Linked DNA regions of Homo sapiens. The protein of the gene in region 2 purifies or fractionates together with the protein of the main gene of each other region. This does not show direct contact. Each region holds a gene or a part of one and is shown on either strand. Other genes may lie near its edges. The genes, in order: OTUD6B and ANKRD26.

What was found.
Region 1: the proteins of ANKRD26 (region 2) and OTUD6B fractionate together in Homo sapiens (co-fractionation; one large-scale study listed by BioGRID). This does not show direct contact.

The regions. Positions count from the first base shown.
Region 1 is NC_000008.11:91,083,806-91,087,635, reverse strand, and holds the end of OTUD6B (deubiquitinase OTUD6B), read right to left. Parts: intron 3,629-3,830; coding exon 3,522-3,628; intron 2,853-3,521; coding exon 2,768-2,852; 3' UTR 543-2,767; downstream 1-542.
Region 2 is NC_000010.11:27,090,437-27,094,266, forward strand, and holds part of ANKRD26 (ankyrin repeat domain-containing protein 26), read right to left. Parts: intron 3,364-3,830; coding exon 3,249-3,363; intron 3,087-3,248; coding exon 2,913-3,086; intron 2,077-2,912; coding exon 1,970-2,076; intron 1-1,969. UniProt on the Homo sapiens protein: Acts as a regulator of adipogenesis. Involved in the regulation of the feeding behavior.

The DNA.
Region 1 (3,830 bases), on a different chromosome or scaffold from region 2:
AACAATCAATGTATGAGGTAACAGAACAGGCAGAGAAAAATTTCATCTGTTCGATAAAAGTTTAAAAAAAAAAAGCATGAAATCACCAAATAAATTCTCAGAAGATCAACTGATCTAGTCCTTCAGCTACTTCATAAGAACCTGTACCAAGAAGGCACTATATTAACAATTGTGTGAAAACATTAATTTGTACAAACTTCCTTCTTACTGCTCCACATTCTTGCACACAAATGTTTATTCTTTATTTTAACATCTATGGGTCTTAAAATATTTTTCAAATTCACTTACCCTAAATAAACATTCATTATTCTAAAAGGTTCTAAGATTGTACCTGATTTCTAAGAGCTATAGCTTAAATGGCTATTACTTTATTTCCCTCTACTTCTGGGGCATAAGCTATGCTCATATATTTATTCAAAATCCCTTAAAATGTAAGAATCTGTGTGTGAAGACAAAGTAAAGGCTGGATACAAAGCAAAAGGAGTTTTCTCCACTTCTAAATTCTTGAATTGTTAAAGAATGACAATTCAAGCAAATAAATGTTGATTTAATTCATTCATTTTTTATTCTTTTTTTGGCAAACATCACATAATATAAGCAAAACTATGCGTTCACTATAGTTACACACATTCTTTTTTGCTTTATACAAGTTGTAAACAAATTTAAGTGAATAAAATTCTTGGCTAAAGACATATTCCAGAACTCTGACATATACTTTTCAGAGTTAGGACAAAAGAAAGCATATGTAACTTCCATTAGACCATCATCATATGAAAAAGTAAATTAGCATATGCTGCTTTTAAATTAACATCTGTCATTTTATTTAAACACTTTTTTAGGTTATAGCTAAAATGATATTTATCTGAAGTTTTAGGAAAGAACAGAAGCTGACCATACAAATCTTGTTCATAACCACATTGGCCACTTAAATTAAAAATATAACAAAATTGAAAAATAGACATATAACCAAAAAGATTCTAAATCTTGTAAGGAAAAAAAGAATAAAGCTGCCAATAAGTTATTTTAAAATACTTTAGATGTAGATAACATTTATAATACTGGGTTTCATAATATCTTGTTTTATGGCTTCCTAATGTTGACATTTTAAAGTAACAGATTACTTCAAAATAAACCCAAAGCATTTAGTGTTTTACAATTTCAATTTCATTCTTTTGTAAATTTCAGACACCAAAAAATTCACATCAAGGGTTACAAAACAGGCATCTTCAGAATATAATTTGTTTGGCAGGCAGAATGGCTTGTAATCTTTTGAACTGGAAAGCCTTCAGGAAGTACTTACTTGCTATCAATGACCCTGCCAGCTTCCCACATTGTTACCTGCTGGGCGTGTGAAAAGACTGACACCCCATTTTTCATATAAACCCAATATTTACTTATAAAAATTAGTTGTACTCATGGAGCAAAAATTCAAATGTTATAAACGATACTAAATCTTACTAGTTTTATCTCTAGTTTGGGAAACACACATCAAACTAAAAAAGTCTCATTTTCATAATATTTCCTTACATAAATTATGAGAGACATTTGTATATATCCTCTTAGAAAGAATACTGTTGTGAGTAACCTGAAATCTGAGCTAGAACAACCATTCATATACAAAACTACTCTATACAAGTCTTAGCTTCCAAACAGTAGCTTTCAACTTCATTCATATATGTAACATAAAATTTCTCAAATATTTGAGTTGAAGGAAAGGTGACATTAATAAGGCTAATAAAATAAGTGGCAAAGGTTTTATTCAAATCCTAGAGAATGAGGCAAGAAGGGAAATATCTGGTAAGACAAATCAGAAAAGAGGAAGAATTTCAAGTAAATGTGGTCTTGGACCTTTTACACTGCTACTCCCTAAAATTGCACAAGGTAAAGGCCACAAAATGCTTGTTCCTTCAAGGAAAGCAAAGTAGAAAACACAAAAGGAAATATAAAAATGTGTAGTTATGAAAGACTCAAGAGATGATGGTACTAACTCCAGTCCGATGCTTAAAAAATACGAAAGAATAACAAATGCATTAAAAAGACAGTAACCTATTAGGTCTTTTTTAAATTATACACAAATAAAAAACTAATCTCTAATTCTTTAGAGATTTAAATTTGACAGAGAATACCTATTTACCTTTGAATTTATCTCACTTCTTTAAACAACTGAATCCCATCTAAATAAATATTTTTAAATTATTAATTATTAAAGCAAGCTTCTTAGCTTGCTTTGATAAGGCTATATATATTAGTAATAAAGCTTCACTGCATTAGTCTCATCGATACCATGGTTACTGCAATCAAGTTCATTTTATAAGCAATAATTAAATTGACCATCACCATACTACATTATTGCAATGACAAAGATATTGGGTAAACTTCTTCAAGACAAATTACATTGAAATGGTTATTTTGAAAGTTTTTAGGAACAGGCAGAAAAGGGAGAATTAAAAACATTGAAAATTTGTTCCAACACAAAACAGAATGTCCAGGATCTTACATAAATGAAAATATCAGCTAATAGGGGACCATCTTGGTCTATGAATGGTGTTCTCTACAATGAACTTAACAAATTTTTAAAATTCCACTAAGAAGACACTGGTTAAAGTTTATCTCTGACATATTTCTAAAAACACCTGTTAGTAGCTTTGCCATAAAACTGATATAAGGTAGTTGTGTTTTTCAGTAGCATTTAGAACAACCCAACACTTGGTAGAAATACTCAGTTCAGCACACTGTATTAAAACATAATTGTACAACATTGTATAAATTAGCTGCAATTTTCAGTAACTATGTTTACCAACCGTGTAACCGAATTATAATGTTCTCCTAAGCCATATGCATGTCTCATATATCTGAAATTAAAAAAAAAAAGAAATGAGTAGTTTTGATGAAAGCAATTTTTCTATATATATATGCTTATTATATATATATATAAACCAATGATTCTGAATGACTCAGTCCACATGGGTTTCACTCAATAGACTATGTGGACATATTAATTAAGAGTTCAACACCATTTGAAAAGTGGCAGCAGTCAGCAAGATCTGGTTCAATCACTGGGGTAAAACGAAAAGGCTGAGATGCTGAAGGTTCAATCAGCTTAAATTGTCATCTAGCCATTGATGACTATCTTAATAGGTTTAGCTAAAAAATACTAAAGCCAATAGCAAACCCTGCATGCTGTATTTCAGAAGAGATTTCTAAATCATGTAAGATATTTTCATAAAATGAAGAAAAATAAATCTAAGGAATAAACAGGCAACATGAATGTATTTCAACTTTTAACACTTGTTGAAACTTTTAGCATTACTAATGTCAAACCAGGACAGTATACAAACTAGTCCTAAAATGTTATAACCTTTAGAAATGACTTTATTCTAAACTCACACACAAAAATAAATCGCTAGAGGTTTAAAAAATTATCTAAGTCACATATTTTAACACATATAATCTAAATTTTTTAATATTCCTTTTTGTATTAATTGTGAAAAATAAAACAGTAAAAATGTCTAGGTACTTACACAAGTATTAGTGGTTTTTTTGAATATTCTTCACCAACTATAATGGGAGGAGAATCTGCCTGTATTATCTCTATTGGTGTTTGTAAAATGTGAGACAGAGCTCTTAGCTATAGGAAGAAAAAAAGTATCAGTAAGGAAAATAAAAATGTAAATCACATTCAAATATGTGTGAACGGGCAACCAGTCAGAGCAGGGATACGCTGTGTTCACCACTGTACACAGAGAGCCTGGTATATACTGGGCACTTAATAAATATCTGTTGAATAAATAAATATAATACAGGTTGAATATCCCTTATCCTAAATGCCT
Region 2 (3,830 bases):
AGGAACTTTAATAAGGTTATGTGCACAGATAATTTGATATACTTTACCAATTTAGTATCTTGCCTGTCTGTGTAGAATTAACTATTTACATCTACTAATAGACATAAGCATCTTGGGTGCTCAAGTGCTCATCTTTGTAAATTACCACCAAGGCTAAAAGGAAGGGACAAAAAAGAGGCCTCTTGTCTCACTGGGGTATTACATACTAGAAGTCCTTTCATGGCAAAAACCTATGCTGAGTTTACTTATCTAAAGTAGGCAAAGATTTAAATGAAGAATTCTCCATTTCTTCTCTAGTCTGATATATTACAATTGCAGTCAGCTAGGGGTCAGATAAGAGCTATCTGCAGGCTTAAAACAGTATTAATAATAATGGTAGCCAGGTGCAGCAGCTCATGCCTATAATCTAAGCACTTTGGGAGGCCAAGATGGGTGGATCACTACAGTCCAGGAGTTTGAGGCCAGCCTGGGTAATATGGGGAAATCCCATCTCTACAAAAAATGCAAAAATTAGCTGGATGTGGTGGCACATGCCTGTAGTCCCAGCTACTCAGGAGGCTGAGGCAGGGGGATTGCTTGAGCCCAAGAGACAGAGGTTGCAGGGAGCCAACATCACACCATTGCACTCCAGCCCGTGACAGAGCCAGACCCTGTCTCAAATAATAATAATAATAATAATAAAGGTAATAATAGGAGTCACAGTAGTTTCAGCCAATGATGCTGATAAGCGTGGGCTAGGCACTGAATCAAATGCTATATAATCTTATTTAAATACAACCACCTTGAGATATATTTAGTATCCCCCTTTTTATATCAGAAAACATATTTGGTGATAAGTAAGGTCCCCAAGCTTACACACTTAACAAGTGGGAAAGCAAGGAATTAAATCCAGTCTCGTGTGAATTTAAAGCCTCTTTTCTCTTTATCACCCATCTATGGCTTGTCTTCAATAAAGGAAAAGTTTATCCAATAAAAGCTGTCTTTCTTCCCTTTGCCCATACCAATTAAAAATAAAAACATCAAAATATACTAGAAATAGAAAAGGAAAAAAATAATGAAACTATAGTATCTGGCAATAGCGATCAACAATCACCTAGGGATAACCTAACATCCGTACTCTTCAAAGAAAGCAACTTAAAGCAAAGAGGCACTCAAAAGACAAAAACTGCTATTGATGTTTAACACAGCATTTCTGAAGGAAAAGTACATAAGCAGAGGTTAGAACAATACCATAAAAGGGTGAAGAAGTTCAATATTGAGTTAAAAAGTGGCCGGGCGCAGTGGCTTAATGCCTGTAATCCCAGTACTTTGGAAGGCCAAGGCGGGTGGATCACGAGGTCAGGAGTTCAAGACCAGCCTGACCAACATGATGAAACCCCATCTCTACTAAAAATACAAAAATTAGTCAGGTGTGGTGGTGTGCACCAGTAATCCCAGCTACTCAGGGGGCTGAGGCAGGAGAATCGCTTGAACCCAGGAGGTGGAGGTTGCAGTGAGCTGAGATTGCGCCACTGCACTCTAGCCTGAGTGACGGGGGAGACTCCATGTAAAAAAAAAAAAAAGTAAACTAAAAGTTAAAGTCCGCATTTTATAAAACTAATAAAACTGATAAGAAACCTCTTTAGCTAACAGATCACATGGCCAAAAACATGGGTTTACAAATAACAAACATCAGTCAATATTATAAGAGAAGATGAATCCTACTGTATAGTCTTCTTTTATATTGCCCAATCCAAGCAACTGCTTTTCTTCCTAACTGATTTGTGTTGCTATTTGTCACTATATCCCCATAATTATGTTAACCTTCTTATTAAATTAATATTTCTGACTTGAGTGAGAAACACCAACGAATCACTGTTGCCCCTCAAGAACAAGCAGGTTTAAAAAACCTGTAACATGCAAAACACAGATCTAAAAAAACTTTTAAACATACAAGTTTAAAAATCCAAAACAAAACCAGCTACTGTACCTTTCCAACTTATCTACTGCATTTACATTTGCTTTTTTCTTTATTAAAAATTCCACCATTTGCTGCTTTTTTCCACTTACTGCAAGTAAAAGTGGTGTGAGGTCATCCTGTAAGACAGCAAAAACAAGTTAAAATGCATAAAATTACATAATTCTCGGCTGAACTGAAAACTCTATGTCAGATCCTTTGAACTGAAACATATAAAATAGAAAACAAATAAAAAACACTTGCTTCCCTTGGAAACACCCCTCCTCTGCCTCACCACATGAACTCCACTCATCTCCAAAACTCACTTCAAATTTTTACCGGTTCTAAGAATATTTGCTTCTATCACATCATTTGGCATGGCATATTGTATTCATTGTATTGTTTCCCATCAAAACCAAGAGCTTCTAGGCTGAGCACAGTGGCTCCCACCTGTAATATCAGCACTTTGAGAGGCTGAGGCGGGTGGATCACCTGAGGTCAGGAGTTCGAGGCCCGCCTGGCCAACATGGCAAAACCCCATCTCTACTAAAAATACAAAAATTAGCTGGGCATGGTGGTGGGTACCTGTAATCCCAGCTACTCAGGAGGCTGAGGCAGGAGAATTGCTTGAACCCGGGAGGCAGAGGCAGAGGTTGCAGTGAGCCGAGATCGCGCCTCTGCACTTTAGACTGGGAGACAGAGCAAGACTCTGTCTCAAAAAAAAAAAAGATTTGCCTTTAACAAATTGTGTTTTCACAAGTATTTACAATAAATGCATAAAAGAAAGGTGTACTGCCTAATGCTTCTTTAAAAGTATCAACATTTAAAGTAAAATCTTAGACAATTAAGTTATTTTAAAATACTTTCAGTCAGGGAATGCTTGCGCTTCCAAATACAGAAAACTAACCCTTACATATGTCACTGTTGAAACAAACGCATTTCAAATACTGTAAAAATAAAGTTGGTTGATCTATACCTTGTTTTTTGCTTCAATATTTGCATCATACAAAAGCAGCTTTGTTGCTACTGATATGTCCTCATTATAGACAGCATAGTGAAGAGCAGTGTTGCCATGGACATCCGCAAGATTTGGATCAGCACCATGTTCTAGCAGAATAGTTGCACATTTCTCTTCCTGGCATTGTACAGCCTGGGAGTATTAGACCAAGAAACAGATCATAAATTCTAGGAATGCAAAATAAACACTCCACAGGTTTCACCAATTAGTTATATTTTAATGAGATAAATTCATTTTCATTCTATGTATTTAAGTCAAATCCATCTGATGCTGAAAGAGCTGGCTACTATATACCTTCATCAGAGCTGTCCTGTTTTCGTTGTCACAGACATTGAGCTGGCATTTTCTGTCCACCAGGAGAGTTACTACTTCTGGATGACCATTGGCACAGGCCAAATGTAGAGCCGTCCTATGAGAGTGACAGGACTTTTTATAAACTGTAGTGCACTGTCTCAAAACATACAATGGTTCATAAAATTATAAACATTAAATAGCATGTTGATATGGTTTGGCTGTGTCCCCACCCAAATCTCATCTTGGCTGTGTCCCCAACCAAATCCCAAATTGTAGTTCCCATGATCCCTACGTGTGGTGAGGGGGACTCAGTGGGAGGTAACTGAATCACGAGGATGGTTCCCCCGTGCTGCTGCTCTTGTGATAGTGAGTTCTCACAATATCTGATGGTTTCTTAAGGGGCTTTTCCCTCTTTTGCTTGGCACTTCTCCTTGCTGACACCATGTCAAGGACATGTTTGCTTCTCCTTCTGCCCTTATTGTTAAGTTTCCTGAGGCCTCCCCAACCAGGCTGAACTGTGAGTTAATTAAACCTCTTTCCTTTATAAATTACCCATATAATAAAGGGTATGTCTTTATTAGC